4 linked regions of the Homo sapiens genome follow. The protein of the gene in region 3 interacts with the protein of the main gene of each other region in a pairwise test. Each region holds a gene or a part of one and is shown on either strand. Other genes may lie near its edges.

Region 1 (7,373 bases), on a different chromosome or scaffold from region 3:
ACCCTTCTGTGTGCTTCCCCAACTTCAGAAAATTCTCAAGAAGGAAACCAGGGAGGTGGTCTAGGGAGGCTCTGCACAGGAACGTTGTTCTGGGCAATCAGGGAAGGACCCTGGGGTGCGGGACCCTCTGCCCAGAGGCCGACAGAGCTCTGTCCCTAGAGGAGCAGGTGACAGGGCTGCAGGCCAGAGGAGGAAGGGGCCAGCCAAGCAGGCAGAGGCACAAATAAAGGTCTCAGAGTTTCCACATCAGGACACAGAGCGGGCAGGTGGCCCCCACCCAGAAAAAAAGAGAAATCCTCAAACCAGGCCTTATGTCTTCTGCTCTTTCCTCAGTGAGCACTTTAAAAAAAAAAAGCACAAACTTATCAAGAATGTTCCCCAATATTCCCACCAAAAGCCCCACTGACTTAAAACAAACAAACAAACAAAAAAACACACACACACAAATATACACATAGGTTACAAATTAAAACTGAACAGAATGATACAAAAATGAAAAATGCAAGTTTCCCTTCCTCCACTGGTCCCCCTTCACAAGGGTAACCACCTCCAGAGGAAAAAACTGTGTGCAGTAACTCAGTATAAGAACACACAGAAGGAATCAGGCTGCATACCAGGGGTCGGCAAACCTTCTCTATAAAGGGCCAGATGATATTTTAGGCTTTGTCGTAATGATTTAACTCTGTAGTAGCACGAATGCAGCCATAGGCAATACGTAAATGAATGGGTATGGCTGTGTTCCAATAAATTGTCTTGGACATGAAATCTGAATTTCATATCACTTTTTTTCCGAGTCATAAAATACTATTTTTCTTTTGACTTAATCATTTAAAAATGTAAAAATCAGGCCAGGCACAGTGGCACATGCTTGTAATCCCAGCACTTTGGGAGGTGGAGGCAGACAGATCACTTGAGCCCAGGAGTTTGAGACCAGCCTGGGCAACATAGCAAAATCCTGTATCTACAAAAAGAATGCAAAAAAATTAGCAGAGTGTGATGGCACGCCTGCAGTCCCAACTATTTGGGAGGCTGAGGTGGGAGGACTGCTTGAGCCTGGGAGGTCAAGGCTACAGTGAGCAGTGATCACACCACTGCACTCCAGCCTGAGCAACAGAACAAGACCCTGTCTCAAAAATAAATAATAAAAATTAAAATGTAAAAATCATTCTTAGCTGTAGGCTATACAAAAACAGGCAGAGCCGAATTTGGCCTTGGGGGGGGGGGTCCAGTTTGCTAGCTCCTACACCCTGCTTATTCCGCTTCCATCTTGATGATTGCTCCCTTCAGCACAGAGAGAGCCACCCCATTTTTCTGAATCATTGCCAAGTAATCCACTGAGAGATTGTCCCATAAATCATAAGGGCACCACAGCTCTCTACTGCTGGATATTTTGTTTGCTTCCAGTTTTGCTTTGAAATTATAAATAATGCTATAATGGACATCCTTTCACTTTGTAAATACACCCCACAGAGTTTAATCCTGTGGGTAAATCAAGGACTATGAAGATGTTTTAATTTCTCTCAATATTGTCAAGTGGTCCTCCAGAAAGTCAGAATTTACTCCACACTGCATATGAGCAGAGCCTTCTTTTCCTCACCCTCGACAGACCTGGATGTCCTGACAGACACCCTAGAAATGTATCCTTCTCTGAGCCCGAGGCCTGCTGACTCCTTGAGTTGGGGGTTTTCTCTATCTTTAGAAATCCCCTTTTGGCTCTGAATTCTGCTGACACCTGCCCTGGCAAAAGCTAGGGCGATGTCTGTCTTCTCCTCCCAAGTTTGAAGGGTGTGGATGAAGGAGTTCAGGAAATGCCACCCCATAATATGCGGCTTTGGTATGCTGATTATTTCAAACCTGAAGGCACTGGGGGAAAAACAAATGCAGGGAGGAACTTTCTCTGAACTTCTCTTATCTGCCTAAAGAGGGATTCCCCTTGTCCTGAGTCCCCCTCCCTGAGAAAGGAAGACTGACTTATTGACAATCTGCTGAGGCATCTTTTATTATCTGAGAGGTTTTTATCTGCCTAACAAGACCGTATAATTCCTCCCCTCACCCTCCCATAACTTGTGTCGCCACCACCCCCAGAAGCCCCAAGCCCCTATTTCCTTCTGTAGCTCAGGCTGCTATACAGGCTTCAGCCATCTCACCCTTCTGGGAATCTCATATTTTGTGGTACACCCATGTGCAGATATGTAACTAAATATGGTTTTCTCCTGTTGATCTTGTTTTTTGTTGTTATTGTTTTGAGATGGAGTCTTGCTCTGTTACCCAGACTGGAGTGCAGTGGCATGATCTCAGCTCACTGCAACCTCTGCCTTCTGGGTTCAAGCGATTCTCCTGCCTCCGCCTCCTGAGTAACTGGGATTATAGGCGCCCACCACAACCGGGTAATTTTTGTATTTTTAGTAGAGCTGGGGTTTTACCATGTTGGCTAGGGTGGTCTCGAACTGGCCTCAAGTGATCCGCCCGCCTCAGCCTCCCAAAGTGAGCCACCGCGCCCGGCCCTGTTAATTTTGTTTATAAGTCAGTTGAACTCATAGCCCAGCCAAGCAGCCTAGCAAGATGGAGGAAAGCCATTTTTGCTCCCCTGCATGGGCCAGGCTGCCAACCCCAGGGAAGAAACTGCCTGAGCTGACAACCCGGATTTTACTGCCACTCAATTACATGACAACTACGGAACTACAAAACCCCCGGCATCCTGAAGCTCCTGAGCCCCAGGACCTTCTCTCAGGCTGCCTTTGGGTCCTAGTCCTTTTTGCCCTCACATCTAGAATCTTCTAACACCAGTGCCAGAAGAGGCCCTGGAGATGGATCATTTGAGAACCTGCCCCTCCTTCACTGTGTGGATAAGAAAATTATGGCCAAAAAGAACGGACTTGCCCAGGGTCCCAGCGTCAGAAATGTGCTCAGCTGCCTCTCTTGTGACACGGTTGCCCACCTGCCCCAACATACTCAAGGTCATCTCTGCTAGTGACTACTCTCCCTGACTGCTGGTGTGTGTGGCTTGTGGCTAATCCATGTCTCTCCACCACCCCTCACAGTCTCCCTGATTTGGCTACCTTGACATTAGCGGCTTTCCCGGGATGTCTGGACATACTGGTCAATCAGGAACAGTGATGGGCCAGATCTGTAGAATCCCCCAGCTCCCTGCAGCCCACACCCCAGCTGTTCATGTGCTAGACAAAATCTGGATGTACCTAAGGAAGTTCCGGAAAGCCTTGAGCACCTGAACCCACGACTCAGCAGGTGAAGAGCTGAAAGTGACTGCTCCAAGGGACAATGATGCTCCTGCAGGAGATCCAGCAGGAGGCAATGTGGAGATCAGGGCCATCAGGGAGTGAAGGGGAGTGTGCAGGGATAGACGCCACCACTGGGGCCAACACAAGGCAATCCAGGGATTACCTTTGGATCCCAACACCTCACGAGGGCCCTAATAAGCAAGGCCAGGCTTGGAGAGCTGTCTCCCTGCAGATGAAAGGCATGGGCCCTCCACAAGAGCAGGTGAACTGTGGCTTCCATGGCTCTTCCCAGTGGGGTTGCCCCACACCATGTGGCTGGCCCAAAGGACATGAACAAGGGGAAAGGACAGGGTGATGGCCAGGAAACACACACAACCGAGTGCTTCAACATGCCAGGCTCTGTGCTGAGTCACTGGCACAGGACCATTTTCATCTGTGACCCCTCCCACCCCAGCCAACATCTCAGGGAGCCTGACAAGAGTCTGGGGGATGGGCAGCAGGAATCAGCCCTATTTTCAAATGGGAAAGGCAAGCTCCAAGAGGCTGAGTCGGGGAGCCCTCCCTCCCAGTTCAGTGCCCTCTGGCTGCCTCACTTTTGGCATCAACTCCAACCAGAGAGGGGAAGCCAAGTCCTGTTCCAGACATGGCCTGCCATCCCATGGGGCCCAGGCTAAAAGGCCCTGGGGTGGGCTGGAGCACCTCCCTGCTCCAGGCAACCCTTTCCTCACAACCCCCCTCCCACCAAACGCTGGCTGCGTGGGATGGGAGGAAGCGGTAGGGTTGCCATTTCCCTCCGCTCTGAGGCTGCCCATCTGTTTCCTGGGATAGGACTCCCCGCCCCTATCCACCCCTAGTCCGGAAACTCACTTGCCCTGGGGCTATGGGAAAAGGGAACTGCATGGCTCCCTCCCTCCCCAGGGGGTGGTGGCAGAGGCCTCCCACCCTCACGGCTCTAGCTGGGCAGCTCCTACCAATGCTTCTGGGTACACAGCGGGTGGCTGGGCCTAAGCAGCACTGCCCTAAAAGTGCAGCACCCAGTGTCAGAGTGCCACGAGACTCTCCTCCCTCCCCCACTCTGGCCTGGCTGTCATCCCTGGCTGGCAGCTTCATGGCTTATCCCAGCCCTGGGGGTGGGGTGATGGGGTGACTTTCTGGGTGGAAGTTGGTGGAAAGTAAAAAAGTGAAACACTTCCCAGCCCAGCCCCAGCTGATGTGACCACGTGGTCATCTGTGAGTAAGCACCGCCCCCTGCTGGACATGCCAGATACGGCCACTGCACCTTGGGTGCTCAGCTGATAACAAGAGGGAAAAGCCAGGCCTGGGGCCCAGCAACTTCACAAGACCCCACCAAAAACTAGGGGCCAGTAACACCAGCAGTGTCTAAGGCAACCTATAGTTCTATGTCAAATAAGTTTAAAAGAAGGGGCCAAAACCACAGGGGCTGGGCTGGGGCAGACAGGGAAGGCTTTGCACAGAATGTGAAAAGGCGAGAGAGGAGCAGAGAGGGCAGCCAGCCTAGCAGGGCCCAGCCACGCAAAGACCAAGGGGGATAAGACAGACCAACTAAGGGCCCTGGAGGTGGAACTAGGAAGTGGGGCCACTCCCTGTTAGATTTCACGCTGTTTAAAGCCTTGAACTTCTGCACCAGAACCCCAATATAGAAAATAGATCCAAGTTGAGGGTCTGGCCAAGGACGGGGGCTAGAGTCCCTCACCCCAGCACACAGTCGGGGGCCCCTGGGGCAGCTCTGAACACCTGAAGGAGCAAAGTTTGAACCTAGAGCTTCAGACAATGGGGTTTCAGAGCATTTGACTGACAAGACAACCATGAGGTCTCACGAGGAGGGAGAACACAGCCGCAGTGTTCAAGGCGGAATGAAAGCAGGGATGGGGAAGCCCAAGGCAGGAGGGGATACTGAGAACTTGCTGCACTTCTCCAGCCAGCCCTCCTCCCACACAGGACTTCACGGATTCTCAGGGTTAATGTATGGGAGCCCAAACCCTCCGTTCACTGGGTCCTTTCCCAGTCTCCCCTCATGCCCTGTCTGTACTATCTAATCTAGCCCCTGGTTACACTGGGCACTGGTCTCTGTCTCCTGAATCCTCCACAGAGCACCACACACACAGGACCTCCACAAGCATGATTAACATGATAAAGAAAAAGAAAATTGCATGTACTGCAGAGCAATGGGCCATCCCCGGGAGCACCGGCCTCCCATGCCGGAGGCTGCCATGCTTATCTGGTGAGGATACTCACCCCAGGAATGTCCAAAAGCTTTGACACCAGAAGAGGCAACTTCAGGGCTGCGACACTCCCCGTGACACCCACAAGAACATGGAATTTTCTCTCCATCAAGGGTGCAGCAGCTGGACAGGAGGCCTTTGGTTCCATGTGGGGTCTGGTGGCTTCAAGTTCTGGGAGCCTGCCAGGCCTGGGCTCTATAAAGCTGTCGGGATTTAGGATCTAAAAGGAGAACAAGGGCCACCCCCTTCATTCATACAGTCGACCAGAATGTATGGAGCACCACGTATTAGGCCCCAGGCCAGAGGCTGAGGCAGCGGAAGGGATCAGCAGTCCTGGCTTCAGGGAGCACACAGTTTGATAAGAAAGTGAGACACCTTCCCCACACATGGGCCAGTCACAAGGGAATGATGCAGTGCTGTGGGGAAGGGCTGTACCAGGTGCGTGGCTGCTCAGGGTGACCATCTCTAGAAGTCAGAGATTGCATCCCAGAAAAAATGACATTGGGGTTGAGTCCTGAAGGATGAGTTAGTTTTTCAGAGACAGGAAGAAATCACTTCAAAGGAAGGAACAATCTTGCCAAGGTGAAGGTCCTGAGGAGGGTGGCAGGTTGGGGAACAGGGAGTGGCTTACTAGTGAGGCCGGACTGTGATGGGGGGTGGTAGAGGGGCAGAAAGTGAGACTGAAAGTCAGGGTGAGGCCAGAATGCCGTGGGCAGCGAGGGCCAGGGTGAGGAGTTTTGGTTTTAGAAAGACGGTGCTGGCACCTGGTGACAGTGTCAAAGGGACCCTGTTAGTGGAGAGACTGGAGGGCGAGAGGAGCTGCTGCGGTGGACTGGGCTGACTGGTGAAAGGAAGCGGCAGGAAGGGATGGGTTCCAAAGATGCTCATGAGGTGGAACCCTGGGCAACAGGGAGGTTTGGGTGCTCCAGGGAGCCAAGAGATTTGCCTCTCTGTCCCTGTCCCTGTTAATCAAGATGGGCACCACCGTACAAATCAAAGCCCAGGAAGAAACCAGCATAAAGGGGATGCAGGCCACCCCAGGAGATTAGCTGGTTTGCTTCTTCCTCTGGCTCTCAGACGTTGCTAGAAGTGTGCACTCATGATAATATGGCTGATGGACACCAAAACCTACACGTGGCGGGTTGGGCCAGCAGAACGTGCTTCATCAGCAACCATCACTGAGGACCGATTACAAAGAACACCATGCAAAGGAATTGTGGAAAACACAGTAGCTGCCTCTGGGGAATCTGTAGGTTGAGTTTGAGAAGACAGGAATGACACCTGTCTGAAATTATTTGAGATCAGTCCTTCCCTGGGATGCACCTTTTTGGTGATCACAGACTCAATTAACACATCAGTTTCCTTGCCTCTCCCTCCACCAGCAAGCTCCCTGAATGTGTGACCGGGTCTAATTGCCAACCAGCAGTCCACTAGCCGGCAGTCCTGAACAGGTGCTGAATGAATAACTATACCCTCCAAGGCAGTGTGAGCAGAAGACAGATACCTAGCCTGTGAAGCAGAAGCCCTGGGCCCTGACCATGGTGTGCTCCTGACCTGGAGTGACCCTGGTCCAGGGTCATTCCCTCCCTGGACCTGTCCCTTCATCTGAAAAATGCAGAGGTAGGACCAGATGATCTCTGAAGCTCCTTCCAGCAGAAACTTTGAGTCAATACATGAAAGAGAGCAGTAAGGGGCTCTCCTTCCAAGACAGAAGGTCCTAGAAGATGCACTCAAAAAAGAATCAGCATGGCAAGGGAAACCCAGGCAGCTGCCCAGGAAGCAGCGCTGGTGAGTTGTCCAATGGCTACCTCCATGGCTGAGCATCCACAGGGGCCTATCTCCTCTTCACTCACAGGCCCCTTGGCTCTCTAGCCTCTCTGCCCAGGATTTG
Region 2 (7,488 bases), on a different chromosome or scaffold from region 3:
CAGAAAATCTACCAGGAATGGTAACAATAAAAAATTTTTCCTTTATAGTGACTTTCCTTACTAAAACTAAAGATGGTTTTGAAAGACAGCAAATGCAACCGAGCACAAACAGCTATAAAATTCAAAGAAGCCTCTGACCCTGAAAAATCAGTTCACCTGAAAAGATGTAACCTTTGATGCAAATAAAATTCTTGTGAAAACAACACTGCCCACTCCCCAAAGAATATAAAGCAGTGCTGAAAATTCAACCATGTTTAAGCTTCAAAGGTTATTGTGACTAATGTATAAATTCTGACAGTGTCATGTTAGCAGGTAATTAAGCTTAAGAAAACACATACTGAAGAATTTATAGAAACCTTAAAAGGAAGTATTAATTTTCTAAAGTAGCATATCTGAAGAAATGCATACATAATTCAGTAAGTTAATAACTTAAAAAAATAACCTAAGAACCCTTAAATGCCATTCTCCCTATCACTGCAGAATTGCAATTACAGGCCTAATGGTTATGATGAACTAACTTAACAAAAATATTCTGGGTTTATCATTCCTGCTATAGATTAAGAATTCTCCGGGGCAAAAGTCCTAATCCTATATAACTACCTATATGTTGCAATAAAAACCTCCAACGAATAATAAAAAACTCCAACTACTGACTTCCCAGAGTTTCCAGGCAGCCCTTTAAAAATGCTTTTTTACTGAAACCTTCGTGTCTGGTAGTCAGAAAAGACTCAATAAACTCCCTCTTTCTATACTTACCTTCAAAATTGCCTTGTATTGAGTTTTGCTCTTCTTGAAATGTGGGAGTTTGAAAGCGAAATACTTTTTATAGTAACTAGTTCAGCGACATCTAAAGGAGTCTTTGGGGTTAACATTCACATACAGGCCAGCATAAGTAGCCAGGCATACAAGGATAATGTGATTATGGTTAGATTATCCTTAACCATACCACTGCAGAAATGGATTTTTCTCTACAAGTAATCATTTTCTCTTTCTCCTTTCTCAACCATGTGGTCTAGAAGAGAGAAGCTATAGGTTTAAAAGTGACCTAATATTAAAAAGCTGTCACAAATAGTCACAAAATCATAACATTCCTCTTAACCCTCAGTTTCCGCAAGATAAAACGGGATAATACCACCTTCCCAAAACGGGGTAATTACACCATTTAGGCACAACACAAAGGCAAAAATTGGCCTATAAGAGTAACACATCAGGACAAGGAAAGAGAACAGGTTCCCAGGGAGGTCCTGTAGTTGAATTCTGCTCCGTTACTGATTATGAGACCCTGAGAAAATCACTCTTTATGCCCAGCTTCTTCTTTGGGGAAATGGAGAAAATAAGGGAGATCATGAATATAAAACCATCTGTAAACTAGCAAGTATTAGACAAATGTGAAAACATTAGTGGCAGCAGCATAAACAAAATTTCTAGGTTAACATGAGAAACTTGAGTGTGAACACAAGTAATTTAGAGCATTGGCCTGGAGACGGCAAATATGGAGGAGGCAGCCTCTTAATTTGCTTCAAATCTCCCCAGGTCCTCCTTTTCCCAGAGCTCCAGAAGGGAGAACTATATACAGGTAAAGGGGAGTGTCTAGTTTTCCCAGAGTTCACCAAACACCTGAGCTCCTGATCTCAGAAGGAACTTCTTTAAAGCATGACTCGGGATTATCTCCAAGTTAAAGCTGAATCCAAATACATACAGGTACTCCATTTTAAATGGACCCCAAATATCAAAATCCAAGCGCACTGAAGGATTCATAGGGTTCACCCTAAGATTCCTTTAAGTAGTAATGCTTTGGTTAAAATATGATTTATGAAAATTCAAATCACAAAACTTTGGAATGGCATCCATGGCTATCCTGACCACTCCATCGTTCATATCTAAGGCATAGCACAAAATCAAGTATCAGTATGGACTGATGGTTTCGGCCAAAGAGAAAATACTCTCAACCTACCAACCCTGCTGACAAACACATTTTCCTTTTCCTAGCTACATATTCGTTCATTTGAAAACATCTCAATCTTGGGCTCAGGACTGTGCTACATGCTGTCCCCAAGCTTCTCTCCTATCCCAGGATGATTCAAGTAATAGGGCATTTGTGACAGCGAAAAAAAGAACATGCCAGGGGGATATAGAAGAGATACTTAGGCTACCCCAAATATTCTTAGCCGAGCCGGGTCATCCCAGGTCACTTTGCCACCCAAACCTCTTCTATCACAAAGTCCTAAAATTGGATCCATCAACTTGTTCTAGAACTGGTATACTTGAACAGAAACATGGTAACTTCGGCAGAATATCCAAACAGGATCTCTGTCACGTTTCATTTCCCCGTCCCACCCCCAGACACAGCCTCCACCACTGTCAGCCCAGCAGGTGCTGCCAGGGCTCCCCATTACCATGGCCATTTATCACCTCTGACATCAAGCATTAAAAACGCCACCACACACACACAAATCTAGGCATAAAGAACTCAGCTGCGATCTGAGAGTCTCTTCAGGGCAGAAAATCCCAAAGGCAGGGTTTTGAGTCCTGCCTCAAGCTTTAAACTAGGGCAATTGGTGGCTAATAAGCGCCATCTCCCAAAAACAATCATTTTCGAGCACACCCCAAATATCTCCGTCCGGGCCGCCCTTCGCTGCTGCCCCGCCAGCGAAGCCCCCGCAACCCGACCCGGCCAGGGGTAGGGCGGGCGATGCTCCGGGCCCGGACGAGGGGCGCGCCGCGGGGCTCCGAACCCGGGCCCGCAGAAACCGCGCATCCCCGCCGGGCGGGCCCCGGAACCCCCGCCCAGGCCCCGCCGCGGGCACCTCCGCTGCTGGCTCGTGCCAGCCCGGGACGCGCGGTCCCCTCAACGCGGCCCCGCCGCCGCCCCGTTCCAGGAGCCCCCGCCCAGATCCTCCTCAGCCCCGCTCCCCTGGCCGCTCGGCGCAGACGTCTCCTGAAACCCGGCCCTCCCAAACCCCGGCCCCGCAAGCCCCGCGCCAGCCCCACTCACTGCGCGGCGGCGGCGGCTGCTGCGGCCGGGCCGGGAGATGCCCGCGGCCGGAGAGCGCGAGCGCGGGGACAAGCGAGCCCGCGCCCGGCGACGGCGGCGGCGGCGGCGGCAGAGGGGACGACTGAGCCCGCGCCCGGAGTTGCGGCTCCAGCTGCCCGGCGCGGGCGGCGCCTTCCCAGCAGAGCCGCGGCGCCACGAGCGCGGGCGCCCCCTAACGGCAGCGCGGGCTGGAAGCCAGAGAGCGGGCGGCCTGAGGAACTCAGCCAGCGCAGTCGGAGCCGCGCGGTCAAGACCACACGACCGCAGCCCCGAAGCCCCGCCCCGAAGCCCCAGTCCCGCCCCTTAGGCTCCGCTCCGAAGCCCCGAAACCCCGCCCCTACGTCCCGCCTCCGCCCGCAGCCTGGGGTCCGCCCAACCCCAGGCCCACTGCGTCCTCAGGGGTGGTGCCTCCACAGCTGTTTCTCCTTAGTCATTTCACGAACTTGTATGGGCCCCCCACTATATCTCAGGCCTGGGGGTTTAGGAGATACAGCGGCCACCAAGACGGAGGCGGGTCCTAATCAAAGGAGAAGACAGACAAGACTCAAGGAAACAGCTAATAGACAAAATAATGACAAGTTATGGCCGTAAGTGTTGGGAGGGACATGATTAGAGGACTTAGATGGAGAAGAAGGGAAGGGAGCCCCTGCTCCAAACGCAGTGGCCGAGGAAGACCTGGACCCCGACCTGCGGCCAGAGCTCCTCCTGCCTGCCCTGCATTGGGGAGACAACCCTGCGATGAGGCCTGTGAAGAAGCCCCCGGGGCCACCGGGGCAAGACGGTCTGGTCCGGCCTGACGGGCAAGACAGCAAAGGGCTGCTGGGCCCAGAAGCTCAGCAACACGGGCAGCCAGGTGGAGAGAAGGGCAGAGCTACCTTCAGCAGACAAAACGACCCATGCAAAGGCTCTGGGGCCTGGAGGAGCTCGACCCTAGATGAGACTGGCGCTGGTATTGTCCCCACTTCACCAGGAAGGAAGCCAAGGCTGCAGAGGATGGGCAGCACCTAACGCCTCAGGGCTAATTGGTCTCCATCCGTCCACTCGTTCCAAGTCCATTCACTTCCTGCTAGCCAGGCCACTGTCCCCTTCCGGTGGGACCAGTTACCTGATGCTGGGTTTAACCTTCTCCACCAGAATAACCACTGGCCTTAGAAACTCACTTGGGTTTCACGTCTGCATGTGTGTGAGCTAGCTCTGGGGTTGAAATTGTATCAGCATGATCATCACAGTTATATCTGATACTTGATTTGTCTCCAAAAGCTCAAATTGATAGGTTAAATAAATGACATATGCTTCATCAACATAACTGAGTGCTACATTATCAAATTCACAAAGACTAGGTGAGAATACAGGGAAATGTGTGTGAAAATGATCAATACACAAACTAGTACACATGATATCCTGATTTTATTTTTAAAAACATAAATATATACAGACAAAAATTTTGAAGGAAATACATCAAACCATTGACCATCGTGTTCAAGATAACAGTATGGGAATGTTAATGGCATTACTTCATAACGTTCTTCTGAATTTTCATGAATATTGAATTTATAATCAGAACACATAAATATTGAATTTATAATCAGAAAAATACAATGAGTTTTGGTTTGGTTTTTCTTTTTTTTTTTTTTTGCCCCCCACTCCTCCCCACCCCACTGGGTTTTGTTGTTTTTTAATAGAAGGACAATACCAAAATTACCCAATACTCAGATCTCCAGAATTTGGTGCCACTGAAAACCCAGAATTGCCTCTGATTTACTGGGTATCCTTGAAAGAGTCATTTCCCCTCTCAGGGCTTCTATTTCCCCATATAAAAACTGATGGATTAATTTTGTTGGTGATTTTGTCAGACCTAGTCCCTCCTATCTTAAAATTTTTATAACTAGTGCTAATTGTACTTTCACTTTTGTATTTTATAATTGATAGATGGCTATTGAAATGCAGTTGGGTTTTATATAATCTTATATTCAGCAAAAGTGAACTCTTTCAGTTCTAATAAGTTTGTAGGTTCTCTTGAATTCGCTGTGCAAATAATCATAGAGTCTGCAAGTCATAACAGTGTGGTATCTTCCTGTCCTTTTTTTCCTTTTTCTTGCTGTACTGTGCTGACTAAATTCTCTCACACAATGTTGAAGAGCAGTGATGGTAATGGGCATTTTTATCCTGTTCTTGACTGCTTGTAACATATCACCATTAACTATAGTGTTTGTTGTGGATTTTTTGATAGATATTCTTTATCAGGGTAAGGAAGCACTATTCTTCTTTACTATGAATGGGTGCTGAATTTTATCAATGTGAGATTCCCCCCATTGCAATGTAATGAATTACAACCATGGATCTTACTATATTAAACCATCCATGTATTCCCGGGATAAACTCGCCTTGATAATGTATTTTTTTAAGTCAATGCATTTTTATTCAAGGAATTTCACACGTCATGATGTATTATTTTTTCAGTATACCGCTAGATTCCATTTGCTGATATTTCATTTAGGGTTCCATTTGCTAATATTTCATTTAGGGTTTTTGTATCCACGTGGATGACTGAGATATGCTACTATTTGCTTATTCTCTCCTCGTCTGGCTTTGCTATCAAAGTTACATGAGCCTCATAACATACCTTAAGGAATGAGTGTCTATTCACTAGACTGGGATTTTCTGTAGTTTGAATGTTCTATAGGATTCTCCCGCAAACCATCTGGATCTGTTGGTTTGGGGGGTTGGGGGTGGAAAGGGTTTATATTGGAAGCTGTTTGCCTCCACAGAGCTCAGGGTTGCAAGCCTGCTGGGGAAGGCTGGCTTCTGGTTTACAGCTGCCCCTGACCCTCTGCACCTTTCTTTTCCAGGTGGCCACCAAGTATCCAGGCTCCTGTGGTAAAGATACTGATCCTGGTCTGCCCTGGGGCCAGGCTGACCTGGAGGGGGCTGTTTATTATTGCAGCTACACCTGTTACAGGAAGGAACCAAGCCCAGCACGGTGCTGGGAGGGCAAAGGGGCACCAGCAGTTGACAAGACAATGAAGTGTGGAGATCTGAGTCCCCTCCCTCTCTCCCTTCTCCCAACTCTCACTGCCTAGCCGACCTCACCTCCTACTTGTCAGGAAAACCTTTCCCCTTCAGTGGGAGCCCCCTAGAACCCTCCTCTGCCCTCTTTTGGAATGACCTGCATTGCACTGTCCTCCCCTCATGAGATGGCTGGGGGATTCCACCTCCTGTCCAGGTGATCCCCTCCCTGGGCTCTAGTCCATTCCTTCTCCCACCCTTTAGCCTCTCCAGGCTCAGATCTTCCATCCCTCCCTCTCTCCAGTCCCCATCTCCCACGCCCATCAGCAGATAAACAGCCTCAGGTCTCTGTCCCTGACTCAAGAATTTTCAGACTTCTCCTTCGACACAGTGTCCCCCTCCCTCTCTTCCTTTGCTGTGTCCCCCCACTTCCCCTAAGACCCCAACCCGTAACATTCAATCTGGCCTCAGGGCCCACCTCTCCATCTAAATGGCTCACCAGAATCCTCCTTGATACTAAATCTGAAAGAACCTCCTCCGACCTGCATGGCTCAGGCCTCTCCGCAGCAAGGCTTCTGCAGTGACGTCTGCCAGGGGACAGCCCCTTCCCTTGGCTTCTAGGATGCATGTTCTCCTCCTTCTTCCATAGCTCCTCCTCTTAGACTTACAAAGATGCTCCTCTTGCTTTACCCCGACACTTAAGCTCAAGTTCCTGTTCAACACAATCCCCTCCTCTCCATGTACCCCTCTCCATGGAATGGTTCAGCCACCTCCATGGATTCCTTTACTGTGTCTGAGCCAAAGGCTTCCAAATCCCTGTCTCCAGCCCAGCCCTCTATCCTGAATCCAGAGCTATAGATCTTGTCTGTTCTATAGCCCCAATTCTGTACAAGGTACTGTGCTAGGTGCTTTTACCCACTGTATCAGTTACCTTTTGCCACATAACAAATAATCCCAAAAGGTAGGGACTTAAAACGGCTTCCAAGTGCTTTCCCCTCTGTTTCTGTGGCTCAGGAACTTGGAAGCAGCTCAGGGTCCCGCAGGAGCTTGCAGTCTAATTGGCGGCAGGAGCTGCACTCATCTGAAGCCTGGAGACTTCCCTTCCAAACTCACTCATGTGGCGTTCAGCATAAGGCATTCATTCCTTGTCATGAGAGTCTCTCCTGACAACATGGTAGCTGACGTCCCCCAGAGCAAGTGACCCAAGAGAGAGCAAGATAGAAGCCACAATGTCTTTTATAACCCAGCCTCAAAAGCGACACACATATGATTATGGTCCCACAGATCAACCCTACTACAGTGTGGGAGGGCACAACAAGGCGTGAACCAGGAGGCTGCCACCACACCCTCACGACAGCTCTGAGGGCAGAATACCCCCACCTCCCACGGGATACGTGAGAAGGCAAAGGCACAGAGAGGTGAAGTTATTGATCCAGGCCACGTGACTA
Region 3 (7,373 bases):
GTTTTTATACTTGTCATCTTTTTCTGAATTTCTTCTGATGTCTCTCTCTTTGCTGTTAGATTTATGGTCTTTAACTTTCTTCTCCTTTTCATTTTTTCTGTTTGGACTCTCAGATACATTCCTGTGATCTGTTATTTTTCTCTCTTTTACTCTAACTGGACTTCTCTGATTTTCTTTTATTTCATTCAACTCACTCCTAAAAAATAAGAAAAAGAATTGGGGAAATGTTATTAGGAAAAGAACTGTAGATATTATTAGCTAAAATGATATTCTACTTTTCTTAAGGTATTCAGCAATAACTAAAATGACAATAACTTTATGTATAATAGTAAAAGCAAACACTTATCATTACATTTGAAATAATAATAGTTAAATCTTACTTATCCCCCTTGATCCATCTTTCACCACTTGATACCCTCATTCTTTGAGCTCTCTGCATCTCTTGCCTCCAATGTGGAGGAGTCTCACTACGTCTGAAACGATCCCTTGATCTGGATCTGGAAGGAGTTCGATAACGCTAAAGAAAATTAAAATAGGGAAAAATTAATGTATAGAAGTATAGAGGGACTCGCATGGGTGCTGGGAGGGAGGGAAGTACTGGGGTGAGGGTCAGGAGGTAGTAAGGGGTACAAAATAAAAAAAATATAAAAAGCATTGAAACAGTAGCTTAAAAGTATATGTTTCCAGGTTAAAATAAAACGTCTGATATTTCTATACCCTGAAAATTACTAAAATTTCCCAATTTTCATATAGGAAATCAATGAGGCAGAGAAACTTAAGTTGTCATGTTGCAAATTCCAAGAAACATTAATCACAAAAACTTTAGCTGCTAGCCATACGTCTTCTCCATGGAAGAGTCCTAACCAAGTAATGCTAGAGCAACTCATAAGTTGCCAAGTTCCAATCTAAATGTTATATATACTTAATGTTTCAAAGCAAATATTTCTCATATTATGGGGAAAACAGAGTAAATGTGTAGATGTTCACTTATTCAACCCTTAGGATGACCAAACACTCTTATTACATACTGAGAGAACATCAGTGAGCCAAGATATATGAGTGTGCTTTCCTGGAACTCATATTCTACAGGACTTGGAGAGCATGTGAATGAACATATAATCACATATGTTAAACATATATGCAGCTATAATAGAATGGGTATAAAAGGAAAAGGGAAAAGATGCTGACAGGAAGGTTCTGAGTTAAGAAGAAACATAGCATGCTTTAGAAATGATGAGAAGACAGACCAAACATGGCCAAATCTAAAAACTGCAAGGGAAAGTAGTACTACATAACATTGATGAGGTAAGCAAGGACTAGGTTTTGTGTAGTGTCATAGGCCATTGTAGTTATTTTGGATTTACCCTAAGATCAATGGTAAAGGAGTGGCACAAAAATCAGACTTTCATTTTTAAATGACAATTCTGGCTACTATTTTAAAAAAAAGATCAGACAGTGAATCTCAAAGTGGGATCTAGGATCTAAAGACTCGGGGTCAAAACTATTTTCATAATAATATCACAATATTTGCCTGTTCCATTTTCATTATTTCATTATCATACAATAGTGTTATTCAGTTTACATGTTTTGATATCATTACTTTCACAGCTAATGGAATGTGTGCTTATATATTCTTATGTTTCAAGTATTTCTCAGTACTAATTCCTGAAAGAGTAAATATTGATAGATATAACCCACACCAACAGAAGTTCTTTTGGGTCCTCAGTAATTTTTAACATGAAAGAGGTACTGAGATTTAAAAAAATTGAGAACTATCAAAATTTACAGCTCAGACAATATGATGGAGTTGAATTAACATGGCAGGGGTAAAGCTTGAAACACATGAATTTCTGAATATTTAGGAGGCAGAAATGACAGTATTCGGTGATGGGTAAGATATATTCATGTATCTTACCATAGTTAAGTTACTTGCATAGTTAAGGTATAAACTGAAAGGGGAGAATCAGATTATTCTTGGGAAGGAACTGCACAGGTGGTGGTGCCCGTCACTAAAATCAGTAACCTAAAGAAGGTTCAGATTTGAAGAGGAAGAGCTTGTGCTCAACTTTGTAAAAGCCAAGTTTGAGGTACTCATTAGTCAAATGAGTCTTTGGAGCTGAAAAATGCCGATAAAAATTTGACAGTTACCAGCCATGGGAGTCATGAGATTGCTCAAGGAGTATATGCAGTGTGAGAAGATTTGAATGGGAACCCTGAGGTACTACAGTATTTAAAGGTTAGGTAAATGGGTGGACACGGTGGCTCACGCCTGTAATTCTAGGACTTTGGGAGGCTGAGGCAGGCAGATCGCTTGAGCTCAGGAGTTCAAGACCAGTCTGGGCAACATGACGAAACCCCATTTTTACAAAAAAATACAAAAATTAGCCAGATGTGGTGATGCACACCTGTAGTCCCAGCTACTTGGGAGGGTGAGGTGGGAGGATTGCTTGAGACTGGAAGGTTGAGGCTGCAGTGATCCTTGATTGTACCACTGCACTCCAGCCTGGGTGAAAATGAGACCCTGTCTCAGGCAGGTGGATCACCTGAGGTCAGGAGTTTTGAGACCAGCCTGGCCAACATGGTGAAACCTTGTATCTACTAAAAATACAAAAATTAGCCGGGCATGGTGGCATGTGCCTGTAATCCCAGCTACTAGGGGGAGCTGAGGCAGGACTGCTTGAACCTGGGAGGCAGAGGTTAAAGTGAGCCGAGATCATGCCACTGCACTCCAGTCTGGGCAACAAACTGAGACTCCATCTCAAAAAAAAAAAAGGGGGGGGTGGAAAGAATATTACAAGGAGCAAGATTAAGTAAGATGAAGACTGAAAAGAATCCACTGGAATTTGTGACATGGAGCTGATTATGTATCAAGTGCTGTTTTCAGCAGAACAACGGTAGTGGAAGACAACTAAAATGCTTGAGGAATAAGTAGGAAGTGAAGACATAAGACAGGAAAGTATAGCCAAGTTTCTATAAAGTTTTGAAAGCACAAGATATTTAAATTCTGATGAGGACACTCTAGTAAATAAAAAAAGAATAAAATACAAGAATAGGGTTAATTTTTATTTATTTTTAACAAGAATAGAGATACAGTGATTGCCAAGAAACACGGGAGACAAGAAAGACCTCGATCCCATTTTATACCATGTAAATGTAAAATCTATTCATATCTCATGGATTTTCTGTTGGGAAGTACCAACATACAGAAGCTGCTTAAGAAAGAGAATATATAATTCAATGCCTGCATCTCCCCTAAATTTTAGTTACTTGCACATTAAAATAATATTTAAGAAACACCCTAAAATTATTTAAGGAAGACAAATGCAATATTGTGAAGATCTCTGGGGAAAGAATCACCTACCCTTGGTCCTCTTCCTTTAATTTTCCTGCCAGATCTAGTAACTAAAAGTCGTCTCTGGTATGAAGCAGGCTGGGAGTTAGGTGGATTACTAGAAGGAAGCAAACAGAAAGTTAACACATTTTTTTAAAAACTTTTGTTGGCCAGACATGTTACTTTAATAAAAATGAATCTGGGCCGGGTGCGGTGGCTCATGCCTGTAATCCCAGCACTTTGGGAGGCCGAGGTGGGCGGATCATGAGGTCAGGAGATGGAGACCATCCTGGCTAACACAGTAAAACCCAGTCTCTACTAAAAATACAAAAAATTAGCTGGGCATGGTGGCTCAAGTGATCTGCCCACCTTGGCCTCCCAAAGTGCTGGGATTATAGGTGTGAGCCACTATGCCTGGCCAAGAATTTTATTACTTGTATTATGACAATGTATTTCTGATCATAACTAAGAAAAATATTTCAATATTCCTTTTTCTACTTTTGGACATAGTTATTATTATTATTATTATTTTTGAGACGGAGTCTCACTCTGTCACCCAGGCTGGAGTGCAGTGCCGTGATCTCGGCTCACTGCAAGCTCCGCCTCCCAGGTTTACTTATGCCATTCTCCTGCCTCAGCCTCCTGAGTAGCTGGGACTACAGGCACCCGCCACCACACCCGGCTAATTTTTTGTATTTTTAGTAGAGATGGGGTTTCACCATGTTAGCCAGGATGGTCTCCATCTCCTGACCTCGTGATCTGCCCGCCTCAGCCTCCCAAAGTGCTGGGATTACAGGCGTGAGCCACTGCGCCCAGCCTGGACATAGTTATTAAAATGACTGATAAAGAACCATTAGCATTACAGATATTAATAATGTAGATTTATGTAGTAAACTTTTTTCAGGATTTGAACATGACATCAATTTTTATTACAATGTTGTAAACCAAGTAAGGAAAACAGCAGTTTTTCCTATTAGACAAACTGAAAAACCAAGATTCTTACTTGCTTAAGAGTTTACTGTACACAAATAACACTATAAAACACTATCTTGTTTTACTGGTTAAAGAGTATCTTGTTATTGGCTTGGAATGCTGCTTAACATCTCTTTTTTGTATTAGTGTTTATTATGTGTAACTTTACTTCAGAACCTACTTGTAATTTAAGTCAATTTCCCTTTCTAGTTATGTGGTTGGCAAAAAAGAACTTTGCGGAAGAACATTTTATAAAAAAGATTTCAATCTTGGGACAAGGTCACCAATTAAATCTTGTTTAAAATAAATAACTTTTTAAAAAGAAAAGTTCTATGGTAAACCATGTAAGGCAAAATATACATATTCACATACCACTCTCTTTCCCTTTCTCTCTCTCTGTTTTTCCTTTCCTTCTCATCAGCTTTAGGAGGACTTTTTCTCATTAGGAATCTATTTTCAGGTATAGGAGGGATCTCTTCTGGACGGACAGTAGACTGGGGTTGTGCTTCAAGATTTTCAGCTTCACTCTCACTAGATGCACTTAACAGACAGAAACACACAAAACAAGTTACAGTTGGTTATTATGTCCTTACGGAAGTATCCAATTGTTGGTATTTCTTTCCTTTATATCACTATAATATAAACATCCTGTCCTTACCAAAGATGTGATCGCATGGGAAAAATCTTCTATTCCTCTGACAAACCAACTAACCAATCAAAAAACAAACAAAACAAAACGTTTCGATTATCACACTCTCAAAAAATATTTTCCTACAAAATGGATAAAAAATATGAAACTATGTGAGCAATGCACTCTGATAAATTTAAAATACTTTAAAACATGGGTAAAGAAATTAACTGCATTTGAGCCATAGGCAGATGAAGACAAGTTTTAGTACAAACACAGATTATTTCAAGCAAAATGGAAAAGAAAGTAAAATACACTGACATTATCTGCTTTCTATCCTTATGCTATCGTAAGAGCAAAGGGGACTGCTACTGAAAATAGGAAAAACAACTGGTGGTTTTCTGCAATTTTCATAAATCCCATAATCCTCCTATAAAACACACAAATCTGTAACACCAAAGCTGTATTATTTCATTGAGTACACAAAAAAATGAACTGATAGGTTTTCTTTCAAAAGAAAATGAACGTACCCAAAATTTAATCTATAGACTGTGGAATATCAAAAGTCCTACGCTCCATGCTATATTTCTCACTATTTTAACAGTTTCATATAATTGACCCAAAATCCTAACAGATTTACAGAAAGGAAATCAGAATATAAAGCTAGCATTAGAAAAGTAAAATTAAGACCTCTTCTTGCTTTTCTTTCGCTTTTTCTTTTCTTTCTTGTGTTTTCGGGAATTTTTCCGATGTTTCTTTTTTCTTTTCTTTGATTTCTCTTCAGTAGCACTTTCGGAATCAGAGGAATCAGAAGAGGACTGAGAATCACTTGAGCTATCTGAGTCACTAGATGAGGAGGAGGAAGATGATGATGATTTATGCCTTTTCTTTTCTTCTTTCTTAACTTTAATAAAAACAAAAAGGTTTTGATCAACAATTTTTAGACAAACTTTGTGGAAGGAGATTTAAATTTTCTGCAGATTCTCACTAAGTTCAGTATTTAGCACTTAGATCATCCAGCTATGTGAACTGGGAAGTACAGGAAAGGAGTCAAGACTCAGGATTAGAGTCCAGATCTCCAGAATTCACTGGTCAAAGTTTTATCTATTAATCCAAAGAACTTTAAAAAATAGGTGAGTCTAAAATGCTAAACTAATGTTAACAAACATCTGAATAAGAATTTTTTTTAAAAGCACAGAATAACAATGAAGAGTCCCATGTTCTAATCTTGTAGTTTTCCACTTTCCCTCTTATTATCAAGATTGGCAGAACTAGTGCAGGGAAATAACAGAAAAACTGCTTTACAGCAACATGGAGAGATAAGAAATGGATTTCACTGGCATGGGCTTATATTTCAGTGCCCAAGCAGTCTTCTAATAATTAAGAAATTTAGCTCAAGAGGAGACTCATAACAGAGGGAAGTCAATTGCCCATGATGAATAGAATGTTTTGGGGACTCTACAAAAAGTCATTTTAAATTGAAATTTTATTTCAGTTAAGGAAGCAGTAACTTTAAAAAGGGTAAAAAAAAAAAAACTCAGAGTTTAAAGGATCAATTAATATAAATAAGTGAAGCTAGAAGGTGTAACATAACAAGAATTAGAAGAAGATACTACAAATTGGGAGGAGCTTGACCCATCTAAAGGTATACTCATTCAAATCATGGTGGATTTGAAGAGGCTAACTGGGGCCAAAGATGGGACAATATTGATATATACATGAGAACTACAATAAATTGAGATATATCAGATTATATTAGAAATACATTAGTTCACAGTGATACTCATAAAGTATAAAGCATTTATCTTGCCTTTGTGGTACAAACTGCACCACTGGCTAATGAAATGAATGAAGGGAAATAGCTCTTTGTCAGAAGCATTCCAGGAATAAATGAAAAAGAAATTATAGTGTTAAAATATCGTTTTACAACTTCTTGTGAGGCACTGATAACCCATGGCTGCTGCAAAACACAGAGACAACTTGTCCTGTGTGACTCCTGTTTTCATTAAAAGGAATTTCAAGTCACAACTGCATCTGATCAACATTACATAACACAGTAAGGACTCAATTAGTAAAATCCAGTATGTTCAATTATAGAAAATGCTACATGACAAATGACCTACCTTTTCTGAGAAATACATTTCAAGGAAACATAAAACAAGATGGTGAGGGAATTTATTAAGAAACAAAACACAACTTACAAGACCAATTTCAATGTCTGAACTTCATTTGGATTGATTCACACAGCAAAAAATTAATTAACATTAATGAAACAATTACAATCTGAACACTGTCAGGATTTTTAGTATTTAGGAATGTGTATGTGTGTATCATTATGGTACTGTTTTTAAGAATCATCTTTTAGAAATAACATTTATTGATAAAATATTATGCCTGGAATTTGTTTCAAAATAATAGGAAAGGGAAAAGTGGCTAGTGATG
Region 4 (7,373 bases), on a different chromosome or scaffold from region 3:
AACAGGGATTTATCCCAGAGGGCCTCTCCTATCTCTAGGTTTAGCGTTTCAGTGTGATGTGACATGAATACCTTGGACAGGGTAGTCAGGAAATTCGGGTTCTAGGCAGGGCCCCAGCCACGGAGGGGTTAACGGGCTCTGGGCAACCGCTTACCCTCATTCATCCTCAGTTTCCCGGGTGGGACTGAGTAGCCTCTACAATAACTTTTAGCTCTTAACATTCTGTGCTTTGCCAAATCCAGGGCTAGGGGAAGGCACTGGAACTGCTAGTGGACAGGTGTGAACCCCGGGTTTGGTGATGTGTAGTCCAAATTGTTCTCATGCCAATTTTTGGCCTTTGGGTCAAGTGGCGAAGATTCAATGCAATTTGCTTTATACAATAAATGAAGTGTAAATGCAGTGTTTCTAAATAACACAGTGTTTTAAATTCACCATCTTATTAGAGAAAGAAATCTGGAGGTAAATATTTCTATAAAACAAATACCTTCATGGCAAGATATCTTTTTAAAATAAATCCAGATTTTCATAAATTAGTTTTATATAAAGTGGAGGGCAAGTATACTAGGAACCAAATAAATGACATAATATTAAGTACATTTTTAGCTAGTTACCACATGGTGCCAAAACCCTGTAGCACTCCGTTAAGACCATCTGTTAAAATGGCTGTCAGGTATCATGTAGATAATTTACTGGTTTTCTCACCTTTTAATTAGTTATTTTGTCATTGTGTTGACGCAACTTAGGTGAAAGGTTTTTCTTTCCTAAGAACTCATAGGTCATTTGCACTTACTCAGTTACAAATGGCTATTTGGGGGGCACTGACGTCATGAATGATTTCATCTTACAGGTCAGAGCTATCCTATCTCCCAAAACAACTTTTTCATCTTCTAAGATGATGAAGGTCTAATTAATCTTGGCCTTCACAACTGCTCTCTCAGCACTGGAAAGAGCCATTCTCCTTTATACTGCATCTAAGCAATTTACATTAAAATAAATACGTTTCAAAGCTCTATATTCATACTGAGGTTTTGAATGAAAACAGGGAAGAGAGAACCACTTCTTTATAATGGACAATGAACTCACTGAATCATATGCTGGACTTTTAAAGGGTAACAAATCAACCCTAAAAATGATTTAAAAAATCTTATACCAGATTGGAGGCTTGGTTATCACACATTACAAAGAAAGTATATGAAACTATTCAAACATGACAGGTAAGCTTGACAGAACACCCACACTTTGCAGGAACCTGAAATGCTACGTGGATCTTTGTGGAAATTCAAACGGAAGTTACATATGCCACTCAACAATGTCACTAAAATCAAAGTCTAGGCAATGAAACCTGGTTCTGTGTCCTCCGTGTTTTCTCTCCTGGTGTCAAATATATTACCTACAACAGAGACAAGAAAATGAAGGCGGAGAGCCGCTTCTCTAAGGAAGAGTTGTACATGGTTCTGTGACATGGCTGGAGGTGGGCGTTCTGGACAAGTAAACAATTTACTGGGGAGGTGTCTGTGTTTCACACTTAAGTCGCTAAGTTTTTAGCCAAGGCTTTAGTTGTCCTCCATGAGCAATTGTAGAAATTGGAAATTTGTAATGATTTTTTATGAGAAAGGCCACGAATGTGTGTTACTATTAGAGTATATCCACATATTGTCCAGTCATGGAAAATGGCCTAAAAGATAATTTACCTGCAAAACAGAATATTATGCAGCTATTAAAATAATGCATATGAAGATTTGCCATAGAGTGGAAAAATGCTTGTTAGGTAAAAATCAAAAAAACATGTAGGAAACAAAATTTTACATATTTGATCTCCACTGTATAAATAAATAAAATGGAGAAACATTTGAGAAAAATCATCCAATAATGGTTGTCTGTGGGTGGTAAAAGCAATTGAAATGTTCTTCCTTACACTTTTATTAATTTTTTAAAAGTATGTAAAATGCCAATTTATGACAATTGCTAAGTCTAGATGAACATCCCCATTTCAAATTTGGAAGCCCCATTTTAAATTTTAGAAAGCACTGTTTTGATTTCACTTTCTCTATACTTTTTTTTTTAATGCAAATTGTCCCCAGCTCCTGGGTGGCTTTTCTTGAGCCCCAGACCCTCTCCACACATCTGTGCTATAGCATTTATGTAATTCCTTCTGCCTCTCACACTAGTCTGAGGGCATTTGTACACCAGCACCCAACACGGGGCTGATTCTTGGTAGTTGCTCAAAAAGGCTTAGTGAATAGGGTTAAGGGAAACTAAAATAGATGCACTACAGAAGGTGAATCCATTTCTGCTAAAGCCTGATGAACAGAAGGTTGCTTAAATGTAATGCATCCAAACAAATGTCATTTGACCTGCCTGTAACCCTACCCTAGTCACTTCTGGTTCATAGAAACACTTAAGCATTTACATCCCTTTCCCTGCCCTTCCCCCAAATACACAACTTTGGAAGGAGGAAAAAAGACCTTAAAAAAGTAATAAAAGCATTGTTGAATCTTTAAAAAGAACTAACTGTTGCTAGCTCAGATAAATGGGATAATGAGAGTCTGTATCAGAGCCCTTGGTCGATCCTGTGGTTCTGACCAGTGAGGCTCAAGCTCAAGGATGAAACCACATGTGCGAGAAAGGTGGAGTCCTTAAAGGGCACATGTGAGGAGGGGTGTTAGGAGCAGCACTGCATTCAAAGAAGCCAACCAGAATGGGGATTTTACTTTGGAGGCAATCAAGAGACATGCTATCCAGGTGAATATCAAGATTACTTAATATTATTACTGCAAAATTTGAGCATCAATCTGAGACTTCTTTTCCTTCTTTTTTTTGAGACGGAGTCTCGCTCTGTCACCCAAGCTGGAGTGTAGTGGCGCGATCTCGGCTCACTGCAAGCTCCGCCTCCCAGGTTCACGCCATTCTCCTGCCTCAGCCTCCTGAGTAGCTGGGACTACAGGCGCCCGCCACCATGCCTGGCTAATTTTTTATATATTTTTTAGTAGAGACGGGGGTTTCACCGTGTTAGCCAGGATGGTCTCGATCTCCTGACCTTGTGATCCGCCCGCCTCGGCCTCCCAAAGTGCTGGGATTACAGGTGTGAGCCACCGCGCCCGGCCTCTTTTCCTCTTTTCTAAATGATAAACGTTTTTATTTATCATGCTGCTTAGTGATTTGTATCAAATATCTATCAATAGTTTAATGAAAAGATCTGCAAGTGTGTTATACTATTTTCTTCATTATGACCTCACAGCCTTGGGTAAAGTTTGAGAAAAGACTGGAAGAAACGAGTTTCAGCTGCAGTGAACCGGGCCGACTGACGACGAACATTTTAATTGTGAAGACTGAGACAGTGAAGAGGACTCCTAAAGGGATTAGCACATCCATCATCTCTTAGGATCTTTAAGAAACATGCAGAGAAAAGCTGGCTTTGGCTTAGGTATGAGAAAGCTATATGGTATCATGGCTGGGAGTCGAGGGACCTGGGTTCCGGCCAGGCCGTCAACCAGCTGTGAGGCCGTGGGAAAGCCACTTAATGTTTCTGGGCCTCAGGCTTTTTTTCCTGTAAAATAAAAGGACTGGATAAAAAGAAGGGATTGGACTAGAGGATCTCTCAAGTTCCTTCTCATTCTCAGATTCCTTGACATTTTTTTCAGTTCCATGAGGCTCTTCTAGCACCCTCTGACCTCAGTTTTCTCACTGGAAACGTATCTCCAACTTCAGATAGGAAAATACAAAGGCATTCCGTACTCACCACTTGGGGGTGAATATAAACTTCAAGGGGAGTGGCTTTCAAATAATAAAAGCTCACTGTGTCACATGACACAGGAGGACAGGCAGTGCAGATGGCCAGGGTGGGAGGGCACTTGGGAAGCACAGCTAGAAAGGCATGGTGCTCCCCTGAAGGGCCTTCTGAAGGCTAGGTCTATTACGATTAGGATTTCATGGATCGGCTGGGATTGGGCCCAGGTGATAAGAATGAGGCTGATATGCGTGCCCTGATATTCAGAGAATGACAAATTGGGAAGGAACAACAGAGATCACGTATTTCAATTCTCTTAATTCACAAATGTGAAAACACAGCCAAAGAAGAACAGAAATCTCTTTTATATAATGACTCTGTATGGGAAGAACTTGATGTAGGCAGGTCTTTTTGCACTATGTAGCTCATTTGATTTATCTGTCCATTGATCTGTTGCTTAGCTACTCAGTGGCAGAGAAAGCAATGTGTCTCTTACACGGCTGAATTTTCCTGTTGCTCTGAAGCTCTGAAGTTCACTAGCACAGGCCCATCCTATGCCTGCGAATGTGGCTTTCCTTGCCATTTTGGGATATGTGCTGTCAATGAATACATGGCCTAGTCAAGTTCCTACACAACCTAGAGACTCCACTAATATTTGCTGAATTTAATCAACACAGACCACCCCAAAACTAGAGGAAAAAACATTCGGTTGAACCTTTTCAGTAAGAGGGTTTTTGGGGGTACCTGGGTTTTGTGGGCAGAGAATCTTCAGATATCCTTTGGAGGGAAGTCAGTAGAGTCCTGTGACCAATGGAGGGGATACATTGTTTTCCACAAGGCTCATTGATCAGACACCTGCCCCTCTGGCTCTCAGATATGAACCCATACACAGGTAGGAAGCCAGGGTCAGAAGCATTACTTGAGAGTCAAATAACATGAAGTTGGAATTATGTCTATGGCTTAACACAACAGCGTGCAGCAAATGCTTCCATGGAAGGGTATCTTCAGCTGATCTGGTCCTGGTATTAGGAATGTGCCACTCACGCCGGATGGCTGGCCTTGTTCAAATCGCTCAGTTAAAACATAGTATTCACTGGGTGTCCACTGATTGACTGCTCAAGGCTCCAAGGCCGTTTGGAGGAGGTGGGAGAGGACAGCCTAGCCATGAATTTGATCACACAAAATTAGTGGTCCCCGTTTTAAGGTGAAATCTCATTTCACGTTAAAAATATTTTGTAATGTCCAAAGGTTTGGGGAGGCAAAATGTTATGATACTTAGTTCTTAGGATTTGCTCTTCTGAGATTTTTATGAAAATAAGAGTGTGAGAAAAACGTTTTTCTATTCAGTATGAAAAACATCTCTGAGTACGGGGCCTTGAGAAGCTCCAATGACGGGGCCTGGTCCACTGCAGAAGCAGTTTGCTCAAGTGTCTGCATGTCTAATGTTAAAATCGTTTTCAATGCAAATAGTTTTGTGGGCTGTATTTTCCAGGAGGTGATGAAAATGTAAATGCGTTTTATTTACCTGTTGGTGGTAGAGCAATGCCGTCCAGTCTTTCATCACTGTCCGCGATCTCTGCTGGTTACAAACATAAGACACAAATCTCATTAGTTCCAGGGAGCACATTCATTTTACAGAAAATAGTGATGTAATTTTAAAAACTCCAGTATACATAACTGTTTTCACCATTCTTTTCTGTTTTCAGCTACCGTTGGTTCATATTACAGATGTTAATATCATTATTTGAATATTTTTTGATGATGGTGATATAAAATCAACTTTCCCGTATTAAAACTTTTTTTTTTTTTTTTTTTTTTTTTGAGACGGAGTCTCGCTCTGTCGCCCAGGCTGGAGTGCAGTGGCGCGATCTCGGCTCACTACAAGCTCCGCCTCCCGGGTTCACGCCATTCTCCTGCCTCAGCCTCCCGAGTAGCTGGGACTACAGGCGCCCGCCACCACGCCTGGCTAATTTTTTGTATTTTTAGTAGAGGCGGGGTTTCACTGTGTTAGCCAGGATGGTCTCGCTCTCCTGACCTCATGATATTAAAACTTTTTAAAATCTTATGAACCTCATTCTATTGATCACTGATGATTTCTGTTTATTTTCACTTATTTACATAGGCTTGAATATCGAACCAGCATGTGGGGTGAATTGTTTAAATAGGGTCATCGCGGGGATGTGTCAATGAATTCCTGCTGTAGAATTTGCACTTGGCATCGCCGGAACCACTCCTGGGGGGCAGCTTAGGAAATCTTGAGAATGAACCTTTCTTTGGAGATGGCTGATTCAGATCCTAGAACTGCCAATCTAACTCTGGCATTAACGTGGTCATGAAGAAGGAATAGGCGTTGCTTCAAAAGATTCTCCATTTCTAAGTTTTAAAATGCAAACCTTCGCTCGTGTCTGATAAATGTATCCATCTCCTTGGGAGTTTTCCAAAGGTAGATCCTTCAGTCACAAAAAACCTTCTGTTACATGCGAAAAAAAAGGTGCACGTGTGTCTCTTGACAAGGGATGGGCTTGTTAGTTTCCCGTAACATGTGGGGATGGGAAAACATCACATTATGGCCCCTGGGATAGTTTCGGTGGTGGCCTCCATGGCTCAGGGCCTGTGGTCCCCACAGGCAGGCCCCTGCTGACTGCATAATGTGCGTGGGCAGCCCTTGTGAGGCTGTTGAATGAGGTCAGCCTTGGCACCATGTTGTAACACTGAGTCAGAAGCAGCCTAAACTAGTGCTACGTACTTGTTTTTATTGTTGCTTTAAACATAATCAGGGCTTAGCTACGGCTAGAAATATTGTATGGCTCCCCTGTCTCCTTCATCCTCCAACATCTTGTCCTCAGATGGACGCTCACTGGCATTAATGAAAGACCCCTTGTCTGCTGACCTGCTAGATCCACCACAAAGAGAAATCACTGAGAAGGGATGAAATATGCAAGACCAACCTAGGTTGGATTAGATTAGCAACTGCTAAAAATGATGTTGTATTTGGGAGGCCGAGGCGGGTGGATCACGAGGTCAGGAGATCGAGACCATCCTGGCTAACACAGTAAAACCCCGTCTCTACTAAAAATACAGAAAATTAGCCAAGAGAGGTGGCAGGCGCCTGTAGTCCCAGCTACTCGGGAGGCTGAGGCAGGAGAATGGTGTGAACCCGGGAGGCGGAGCTTGGTGAGCCGAGATCGCGCCACTGCACTCCAGCCTGGGCGACAGAGCGAGACTCCATCTCAAAAAAAAAAAAAAAAAAAGATGTTGTAGATGAATATTTAACAACATAAAAATATTCAAACCATGGGATAAATGGTGTGATTAAGATTCTGGAAACAGGTTTATAGAAAAAATATGGCACATACTGAAATGTTAACTGTGTTTCCCTCTGGATGAAAGGCTTTAGGTATTTTAAATTTTGTTCTATGGCTTTTAGAAATTATTTTATATATGAAAAATAATGAACATATGTTATGTTTATATTTAGAAGACATTATTTTCTTCTAATTGGTTTGAGTGAGTTGGGGACAGATGGTCTTCATGGTAGTTCTCTCACTGCCTAGGATTTTAAAAATCCTTCAATAATAATAACAATGATAATCACCATGTATTAAATGCTCACGGGGCACTTGACATGCAGTGTGTCGCTGAACCC

What was found.
Region 1: the proteins of PPIG (region 3) and PPCDC interact in binary tests that used the Homo sapiens proteins (3 or more experiments, as listed by UniProt).
Region 2: the proteins of PPIG (region 3) and KCTD6 interact in binary tests that used the Homo sapiens proteins (3 or more experiments, as listed by UniProt).
Region 4: the proteins of PPIG (region 3) and BEND7 interact in binary tests that used the Homo sapiens proteins (3 or more experiments, as listed by UniProt).

Annotation. Positions count from the first base shown.
Region 1 is NC_000015.10:75,026,576-75,033,948, reverse strand, and holds part of PPCDC (phosphopantothenoylcysteine decarboxylase), read right to left. Parts: intron 5,703-7,373; 5' UTR 5,631-5,702; coding exon 5,496-5,630; intron 1-5,495. UniProt on the Homo sapiens protein: Catalyzes the decarboxylation of the cysteine moiety of 4-phosphopantothenoylcysteine to form 4'-phosphopantotheine and this reaction forms part of the biosynthesis of coenzyme A.
Region 2 is NC_000003.12:58,487,677-58,495,164, reverse strand, and holds the start of KCTD6 (BTB/POZ domain-containing protein KCTD6), read right to left. Parts: upstream 3,070-7,488; 5' UTR 2,996-3,069; exon of another isoform or gene 757-2,995; intron 1-756. UniProt on the Homo sapiens protein: Probable substrate-specific adapter of a BCR (BTB-CUL3-RBX1) E3 ubiquitin-protein ligase complex mediating the ubiquitination and subsequent proteasomal degradation of target proteins.
Region 3 is NC_000002.12:169,629,236-169,636,608, reverse strand, and holds part of PPIG (peptidyl-prolyl cis-trans isomerase G), read right to left. Parts: intron 5,836-7,373; coding exon 5,622-5,835; intron 5,011-5,621; coding exon of another isoform or gene 4,962-5,010; intron 4,844-4,961; coding exon 4,676-4,843; intron 3,450-4,675; coding exon 3,362-3,449; intron 518-3,361; coding exon 381-517; intron 197-380; coding exon 1-196. UniProt on the Homo sapiens protein: PPIase that catalyzes the cis-trans isomerization of proline imidic peptide bonds in oligopeptides and may therefore assist protein folding. May be implicated in the folding, transport, and assembly of proteins.
Region 4 is NC_000010.11:13,442,014-13,449,386, forward strand, and holds part of BEND7 (BEN domain-containing protein 7), read right to left. Parts: intron 5,307-7,373; coding exon of another isoform or gene 5,304-5,306; coding exon 5,253-5,303; exon of another isoform or gene 4,529-5,252; coding exon of another isoform or gene 4,518-4,528; exon of another isoform or gene 4,074-4,517; intron 3,548-4,073; coding exon of another isoform or gene 3,534-3,547; exon of another isoform or gene 1,692-3,533; coding exon of another isoform or gene 1,636-1,691; exon of another isoform or gene 1,391-1,635; coding exon of another isoform or gene 1,329-1,390; exon of another isoform or gene 1-1,328.